2 linked regions of the Homo sapiens genome follow. The protein of the gene in region 1 interacts with the protein of each later gene in a biochemical or structural test. Each region holds a gene or a part of one and is shown on either strand. Other genes may lie near its edges.

The links.
Region 2: the proteins of PSMA6 (region 1) and XBP1 form a complex in vitro, tested with the Homo sapiens proteins (one study listed by IntAct).

The regions. Positions count from the first base shown.
Region 1 is NC_000014.9:35,312,661-35,316,684, reverse strand, and holds part of PSMA6 (proteasome subunit alpha type-6), read right to left. Parts: intron 3,805-4,024; coding exon 3,626-3,804; intron 2,325-3,625; coding exon 2,230-2,324; intron 1-2,229. UniProt on the Homo sapiens protein: Component of the 20S core proteasome complex involved in the proteolytic degradation of most intracellular proteins. This complex plays numerous essential roles within the cell by associating with different regulatory particles.
Region 2 is NC_000022.11:28,797,770-28,802,009, reverse strand, and holds the start of XBP1 (X-box-binding protein 1), read left to right. Parts: upstream 1-1,440; 5' UTR 1,441-1,485; coding exon 1,486-1,712; intron 1,713-1,932; exon of another isoform or gene 1,933-1,973; coding exon of another isoform or gene 1,974-2,050; intron 2,051-2,856; coding exon 2,857-2,953; intron 2,954-4,240. UniProt on the Homo sapiens protein: Functions as a transcription factor during endoplasmic reticulum (ER) stress by regulating the unfolded protein response (UPR).

The sequences.
Region 1 (4,024 bases):
CATATTGGACAGGCTGGTCTGGAACTCCTGACCTCGTGACCCGCCTGCCTCAGCCTCCCAAAGTGCTGGGATTACAGGCGTGAGCCACCTTGCCCAGCCGTCAAAATACATTTATATGTAGTATAACTGAAATTTATGTCAGCTCAAAGATAAAAATTCATGAAGAAATTTTAAGCATATTAAAGTGTTCAGATTCAGAAGTTCATGAAAATAAAGTTATAATTCTATGAATAGTCTACCAGCCAGAGAGTGCTCCATGTTGAACATATATTTCCTTTCTCTTTTTTTTTTTTTTTTTTGAGATGGAGTCTGACCCTGTCGCCCAGGCTGGAGTGCAGTGGCACAATCTTGGCTCACTGCAACCTCCGCCTCCCAGGCTCAAGCAATTCTCCTGCCTCAGCCTCCCAAGCAGCTGGGATTACAGGCGTCCACCACCACATCTGGCTAATTTTTGTATTTTTAGTAGAGATGGGGTTTCACCATGTTGGCCAGGCTGGTCTCAAACTCCTGACCTCAAGTGATCTGTCCACTTTGGCCTCCCAAAGTGCTGGGATTACAGGTGTGAGCCACCATGTGTGGCCCTGAACATGTATTTTCTAAATGATGTTTGCCTCGAAAGGAAGCAATTGTTTGGCAACCTTGTTAATGTGACCTATTACTACTAGACTTCTAAAAAGTGAAATTTGTCAAAAGGACATTTTTTAGTGCAACTGAAGGCAATATCAAGCAGTTTAAATAGTTGTTGATGCTTATGCTATGTACTGTAATTATTTACATATATTTACTATCACAGAATTTATAAATGATACAAAGTTTTTTGAAGACAAGATTTTTGATTCCTTACCAATTTAAAAAATAACAAATACAATTTTAAAGGTGGCAGGAAGGTCTCCAAACAGAAAAGAAAACAAGAACTAATTGTAGGTTCCTTAGAGAGATTTTAAGATTATTCTTGCTGAAATTTTTACTTAAAAAAAAAAAAGGCACCTTTTTCAAAAGCAACTTGATCCCTGCCCCCACCCCTCACCCCTACCCCAACCCAAGTTACAAGACTTCTTCCTACGGGAAGAAAAGCTAGGATAGATTCGCTTTTGGTGTTGTCGGTTGTTTTTTTAACAGATGAGGTCTCACTATGTTACCCAGGCTAGAGTGCAGTGGCTATTCACAGGCACTATCATTGCGCACTACAGCTTTCAACTCCAAGGCTCAAGCCATCCTCTTGCCTCAGCCTCCTGAGGAGCTGAGACTACAGATGCATGCCACAGCACCCAGCTGTTTTTTTTTTTTTAAAGTCCTATGAATTTTTCTGAATCTGTCATGTTTATATGACTTATCTGTGGGCAACCAAAAGAACAAATTAGGAAAAAAAAGAACAAACGAAAAACCTCTTCAAGGTCTAGTTAAGCTTAGTTTACCACTCCCGTACCCCACACCACAACCAAGACCATGTGTCTTTATGGTTGTGATCTAAGAATAGATACACATAATAGTTAAAATGCCTCCCAGTAGTTCCTTGTATCTGTCGATTTAACTGCAGTATTTTCATTAAAGATAAGAGCATCCTGGTCCATGGTATATCAACTGCCTCACAGGGCTGCTGGGAGGATTAAATGAGCTGATTATACGAAGCACTCAGTATGGATTTGAATCATGGAAGCTATAAGGCTGATGTGTGGGAGTTAGTCACTTAGTGAGTAAGAACACACACACACACACACACACACACACACACACACATCCAGCAACTGCAAGTCAATTAGCTGTATTCAAAATTTGGGCTTTCCAAAGATCTCTAGATAAGGGTCTGACATATATCAGTAACTCATATTGCTCCTCAAAGTTCTACTTAAATAACCACTAAATAACCAAAGTTCTATCTGAAAAACTTGCAAACTACTACTTTGGGAATTGAATTTGTATTGGCCTTAAACTAAAAAAAAGAAAACACTTATGCTAATTTTTTTCCTTACATAAGGAAGGTAACTTTATGTCATCTCTGGTGTTAGATATAAAATCACTCTGAAATAAGGAGAAAAGCTTTCATATCTGACTCTTAAATAGAGTCCAAAGTTTTAAAAACAGATCTCAGGTGCTGGGGAAAAAAACAAACACACAAACAAAAACTATAATGACAGTTAAAGAAAAAAGATTTCCCCCACAAGTTATAGGACACATGGACTCACACGCCTCCACCTTTCTAGTCTGCATGTGGCCCACAATATCACTCACCTGAATTTAGGATTTTCAACTGTCACTACTCCAACTTCTATTTCTGAAGGTTTGAAATCAATTGATAGAACAGTAGACAGGCATGTAATTGCAGTCTGAAAAAAAGTATTTAATGTTAAAATATAGTATTTTTTAGAGATTCCAAGGTTTTCTCATTCCTAGCTTATTCAAATCATGAGTCAATCAGGAGCTCCATGTTTCAATGAGGTAGTTCAATGTTACTAACAGACTGCTTAACTCTAATGTATTGCCTCCCAATGATGAGAAATTTTTTTCTACCAAGTCAAATAATAAAGGGGTCCATTAATTAAAATAGGATGATTTATACAAAAAGGTTTATTGGCTTCATGACCCAGGCACTACACTTCACTTAGCACTTGGGGTGAAATGGGAAAAGGATAAAGATGAATGATACTCTCTGCATCTTCAAGGAATTTACAGTAAAAACGATTTAAGAATGTTTTAAGTGTTGTTTGTTTGTTTTGTTTCTGTTTTTTGAGGCAGAGTCTCACTCTGTCGCTCAGTCTGGAGTGCAGTGGCGCCAGCCTGGCTCACTGCAACCTCAGGCTCGTGGATTCAAGCGAGTCTCCTGACTCAGTCTCCTGAGTAGCTGGAATTACAGGCGCCTGCCACCATGCCCGGCTAATTTTTGTATTTTTCATAGAGACAGGGTTTCGCCATGTTGGCCAGGATGGTCTCAAACTCCTGACCTCAGGTGATCTGTCTGCCTCCCAAAGTGCTGGGATTACAGGTGTGAGCCACCTTAAGTGTTTTTTTACCGGATGTGGTTATTTATGTAATTAATTATGAATTGCAATAAAAGAAACCTTTAAGAAATATTTAGACAGGGCCCAGTACTTCCTGAACATGAACTAGCTTTTTATCTCCTTTAAGCATACTTCCAAACCAAACGTAAAAGCATTAGATGGTAATTTTTTTTTGGTCACTTATCAGAAGCATGTTGTTAGCATCTTCAGAATGGCTTTAATTCCAGACTTACACCCAAAATCTACTAAAATTTTTGTTTTTAATTTCTTGGCAGTAAATAGGACTGGCCTCGAACACCTAGACTCAAGCAGTCCTCCAGCTTCAGCCTCTCAAGTAGCTGGGACTACAGGTGTGTGCCACCATGCCCAGCTGGTTCCTATTTTTATTTATATTTTCCTATTATATGCGTTTTGTTGAAAGCCACCTCAAATACATTACGAAATAAGGAATTAAGTGAATAAAAGCAACTCAAATTTTCCTATGTCAGCTGTATGATATCAATTTCATTATTAAGTTGACAACTTGAATCCTGGGATGTAATTCAGGAATAGCTTTGTATAGAAATTATACAAAGATCCTCACTGTTCTATATAGCATAAAAAAAGTCAGCTCCTTTTGGTTGACTTACTTCCACTGTCTGTTCAAATGTCCAATCAAATTTCTTCTTCACTTTTTTTTCAAGGAAGCTGGTTGACTCAGTTTGTTTAACTCCCGCTGCAGTGGCTTTAAACCCACAGTAGTAACCTGCAGGATCACACTTATATACCTGAGGGCCTTGCTCTTCATCTATACCAATTAAAATCATACCTAAAAAGAGAAAAGACCCTAATTAAATGTTTTAGCTTTATACAATGACATCTCCTCTTTCTTGGTGGTGTCACATAGCTGCTGCTAATCATGACTTTGGCCATCAATTTTAGGATATGTATTTTCCTTTAAGAAAACTGATAAAATACAGGTTATCACCACAGGTAAATTAGGTAACAGGTAAATTCCCATTTCACAAAAGGATTTATCACAGATTAAA
Region 2 (4,240 bases), on another chromosome or scaffold:
GGAAGCAATAATTACTTGTTAGAGAAGGTATTGCTGTGCATTTCTGGGGAATTTCACATTTTGTAATTTGCTTTAAAAAAAGTGGACAGGCATATTTACGGGGGTTTCTCGGACTTCTCCATGTTAATATTCGTGTGTATAAATCGCTCCCGTGCTGCTCTCTGGGGGCCCCTCTTTCACAAACACCTGGCCACCCTCACGCCACAATGGCCAGGCAGGAACCTCGACCTCCCCTCGGAGAGGGGGCTCAGGGTCAACCCCGGGGTCTCAGTCTCTACATGTGACGTTTTCCTGTCCCCTCATTTAAAATAACAAGAGGCTGGGCGCAGTGGCTTACGCCTGTAATCCCAGCACTTTGGGAGGCCGAGGCGGGCGATCACGAGGTCAGGAGATGGAGACCATCCTGGCCAACACGGTGAAACCCCGCCTCTACTAAACTACAAAAAATTAGCCGGGTGTGGTGGCGGGCGCCTGTAGTCCCAGCTACTCGGGAGGCTGAGGCAGGAGAATTGCTTGAACCCGGAGGCGAAGGTTGCAGTGAGCTGAGATCTCGCCACTGCACTCCAGCCTGGTGACAGAGCCTGACTCCGTCTCAAAAAATAAGAAAAAAAAATAAAATAAAAATAATAGAGGCCGAAGCGGGAGGTTCACTTGAGCTCAGAAGTTCGAGATCAGCCTGGGCAACACAGTGAGACCTCGTTTCTATTTAAAAAATAAAATAAAACTAAATTTAAAAAAATGCACGCTCATAGTACAAACTTTAGAAATGGAACGAAAAACTAAAATTGAAGGTATTCCCCTCCAACCCAGAGATAACACCTATCGTTTATTAAGCCCTCACTATTGTTAAACTTAGTTTTAAAGGGCACGATCTCATTTCTTAAAGACTTCTATTCCGCAGAATTTCTTTCCAGGCTTTTTTCTTTTTCTTTTTTTGAGACGGAGTCTCGCTCTGTCGCCCAGGCCGGGGTGCAGTGGCGCGATCTCGGCTCACTGAAACCTCTGTCCAGTCTTTTCGAACCCAAGGCCCAACTGCGCTCTATCTCGACTTTCGGCTCCACTCGGATCCCGAAGTGGCGCACGAGATAAAATGTTGTCAGGCTGAGGTAATTCTCTGTTAGTCCCGGTAAAAATTCGTCAGTCTGGAAAGCTCTCGGTTTGGAATTAAATTCTGTCACTCCGGATGGAAATAAGTCCGCTTAAGGGGGGAAAATCCGTTTGTGGAGGACACGCTCCCGCACGTAACCCCCCGCGGAAAATGACCCCAAGTACCTTTGGCCAGGGATTGCCGCTGCCACGCCGGACTCCATAGCCACGGTCCTGAAACGCCCCGCCGGGCAGGCCGGACCAATGGACGCCGAGCTCGGCCGTGCGTCACGCGACGCTGGCCAATCGCGGAGGGCCACGACCGTAGAAAGGCCGGGCGCGGCGAGGCTGGGCGCTGGGCGGCTGCGGCGCGCGGTGCGCGGTGCGTAGTCTGGAGCTATGGTGGTGGTGGCAGCCGCGCCGAACCCGGCCGACGGGACCCCTAAAGTTCTGCTTCTGTCGGGGCAGCCCGCCTCCGCCGCCGGAGCCCCGGCCGGCCAGGCCCTGCCGCTCATGGTGCCAGCCCAGAGAGGGGCCAGCCCGGAGGCAGCGAGCGGGGGGCTGCCCCAGGCGCGCAAGCGACAGCGCCTCACGCACCTGAGCCCCGAGGAGAAGGCGCTGAGGAGGTGGGCGAGGGGCCGGGGTCTGGGGCCAGATCTGAAGCCGGGACTAGGGACAGGGGCAGGGGCAGGGGCTGGGAGCGGGGACCCAGCACTGGCCGCCCCGCAGGGCTCCGTCGCCTTTGGCCTGGCGGGTCGGTGCCAGCGTGGCGCGGGGCGGGGCAGGAAGCCCGGACTGACCGGATCCGCCACGCTGGGAACCTAGGGCGGCCCAGGGCTCTTTTCTGTACTTTTTAACTCTCTCGTTAGAGATGACCAGAGCTGGGGATGCGGGCACCTGTCTTCCAGGCCCTCTTGCTGTGTGGCCGCAGACTGGTGGTTCAGCCTCTTAACTCGGACATGAGGTCGAATAATCTGTTTTGGTTTACTGCTATTTCTGGAGAGGCGCGGAGCTGAAATAACAGAGCTGTTGAAAGGGCTGGGAATTCTGCGAGGCTCACTGGTCTAGCTCAGTATCTGCGTTCTTAAAATGGAACCTACTTCATGAGGTCTTTGGGGAGATTGAGACTTGGATATAATGTGCCTAGCACTTAGTCCTCCGTAAATGTTCACTCTTTTGTGATCATTGTGCCTTCTGTGATTTATGAAGTGTCTCTTCTGAGTTAATTCTTTTAAAAAAAAAAGTGTCTCCTCCAACAGACACGGACCCATCAGCAGGTCACTGCCTAGGATCTCAACACTAGAGATCAGGGAGTGGCATCAGCCTCTCCCTTTTCTAAATTGGACTGGGGGACGGAGGGTTGATGTCATAGCAAGATTGCAGCCTTCACTAGATTAATGAGGCCAGGTTGGATCCTGTTTAAGAGAACTGGAGACAGGAAGCAGCGGGGGAATAGATGGGGAAAGAGGAAAGTTCCTTATGATGCAAGATGAATAGTGTGTGTGTCCAGCCCCAGTGCTGTGACGGGGATGAGTCTGAGGTGGACGGATGATGCAATATAGGAGAGAATAAAGCAGGTCTTCGAGCTAGATTGACAGAAGACTGTATTTTTTATTTTGTTTTATTGAGGGGAGGAGCCTGAAGTGTATTTTATCATTAGTCTGTCTTATACTGTAAATAAAAATGAAAGCACCAGCTGGTAAAGTTTTCAAATAAAGACATAAATAAGGTTTGATATGACTCAGTGTGGTATGTTCCTTCTCTTCCTAGGAAACTGAAAAACAGAGTAGCAGCTCAGACTGCCAGAGATCGAAAGAAGGCTCGAATGAGTGAGCTGGAACAGCAAGTGGTAGATTTAGAAGAAGAGGTAAAACTACTTAAGGTCAAACTCTTTTATCCATTGTATACCCTTCCTTGGTGAATGTTCTGATATTTGCTTCCCATCCCAAGTTGTTTCAGCCCCTATTAGAATACAATTGAATATATGATTAAAAGTTAAACTAGGCTGGGCATGGTGGCTCATGCCTGTAATCCCAGCACTTTGGGAGCCTGAGTTGGGCAGATCACTTGAAGCCAGCAGTTTGAGACCAGCCTAGCCAACATGGTAAAATCCCGTCTCTACCCAAAAATATACCAAAAAAAAAAAAAAAAAAAAGGCCAAGCGTGAGTGCCTGTAGTCCCAGCTACTCGGGAGGTTGAGGTGGGAGGATTGTTTGAACCTGGGAGAGGGAGGTTGCAGTGAGCTGAGATCGCACCACTGCACTCCAGCCTGGGCAACAGAGTGAGACTCTGTCTCAAGAAAAAAAAAAAAAGTTTGCTGGGCACCGGGGCTCACACCTGTAATCCCAGCACTTTGGGAGGCCAAGGTGGGTAGATAACTTGAGATCAGGAGTTCGAGACCAGCCTGACCAACGTGGTGAAACCCCATCTCTATTAAAAATACAAAAATTAGCCGGGTGTCGTGGCAGGCACCTGTAATCCCAGCTGCTCCGGAGGCTGACGCAGGAGAATCACTTGAACCCAGGAGGCGGAGGTTGCAGTGAGCTGAGATCACGAGATCATGCCACTGCACTCCAGTCTGGGCGACAGAGCAAAAACCCTGTCTCAAAAAAAAAAAAAAAGTTAATCTAAGTTAGGACAGAGAGTTGGTGAAGTGGTGAAGCTTGTTGAGGGCAGAAGTGATTGACTTTGTGGCATTTGGTGCTAGATGTATCTCAAAGTAGATGGATTTAACAATGTTTATTGAGTTTGTAGTAAGAAATTAGCAAGGGCTAATAGGAAATAATTGCTTAAACTTTACATTCTTCCTGGCATGGCCAGAAATTCACTAAAGGTTCCTTTCCCCCTCTAGGGTCCACCTGTTAATCAATCTTAAATTGTTGCCAATTACACATCTTGAATACATAGAGATTATTTATATTGTTTTTTTAACCCCTTGGTCAATTTGCATATATTGAGCTTTTTAAAGTTTTAATCATTAGTTGGTTCTTCTAAGAATCATGAGTCAGGAGCAGGGATTTTTTTTAACTTATTTTGGATTTATAGTCACCACTACCACTTTTATTATTACCTGCCAGTTCAAGATAGTTATTTATTTTTATTTTATATTATTATTATTATTATTATCATCATCATTATTTTGAGATGGAGTCTC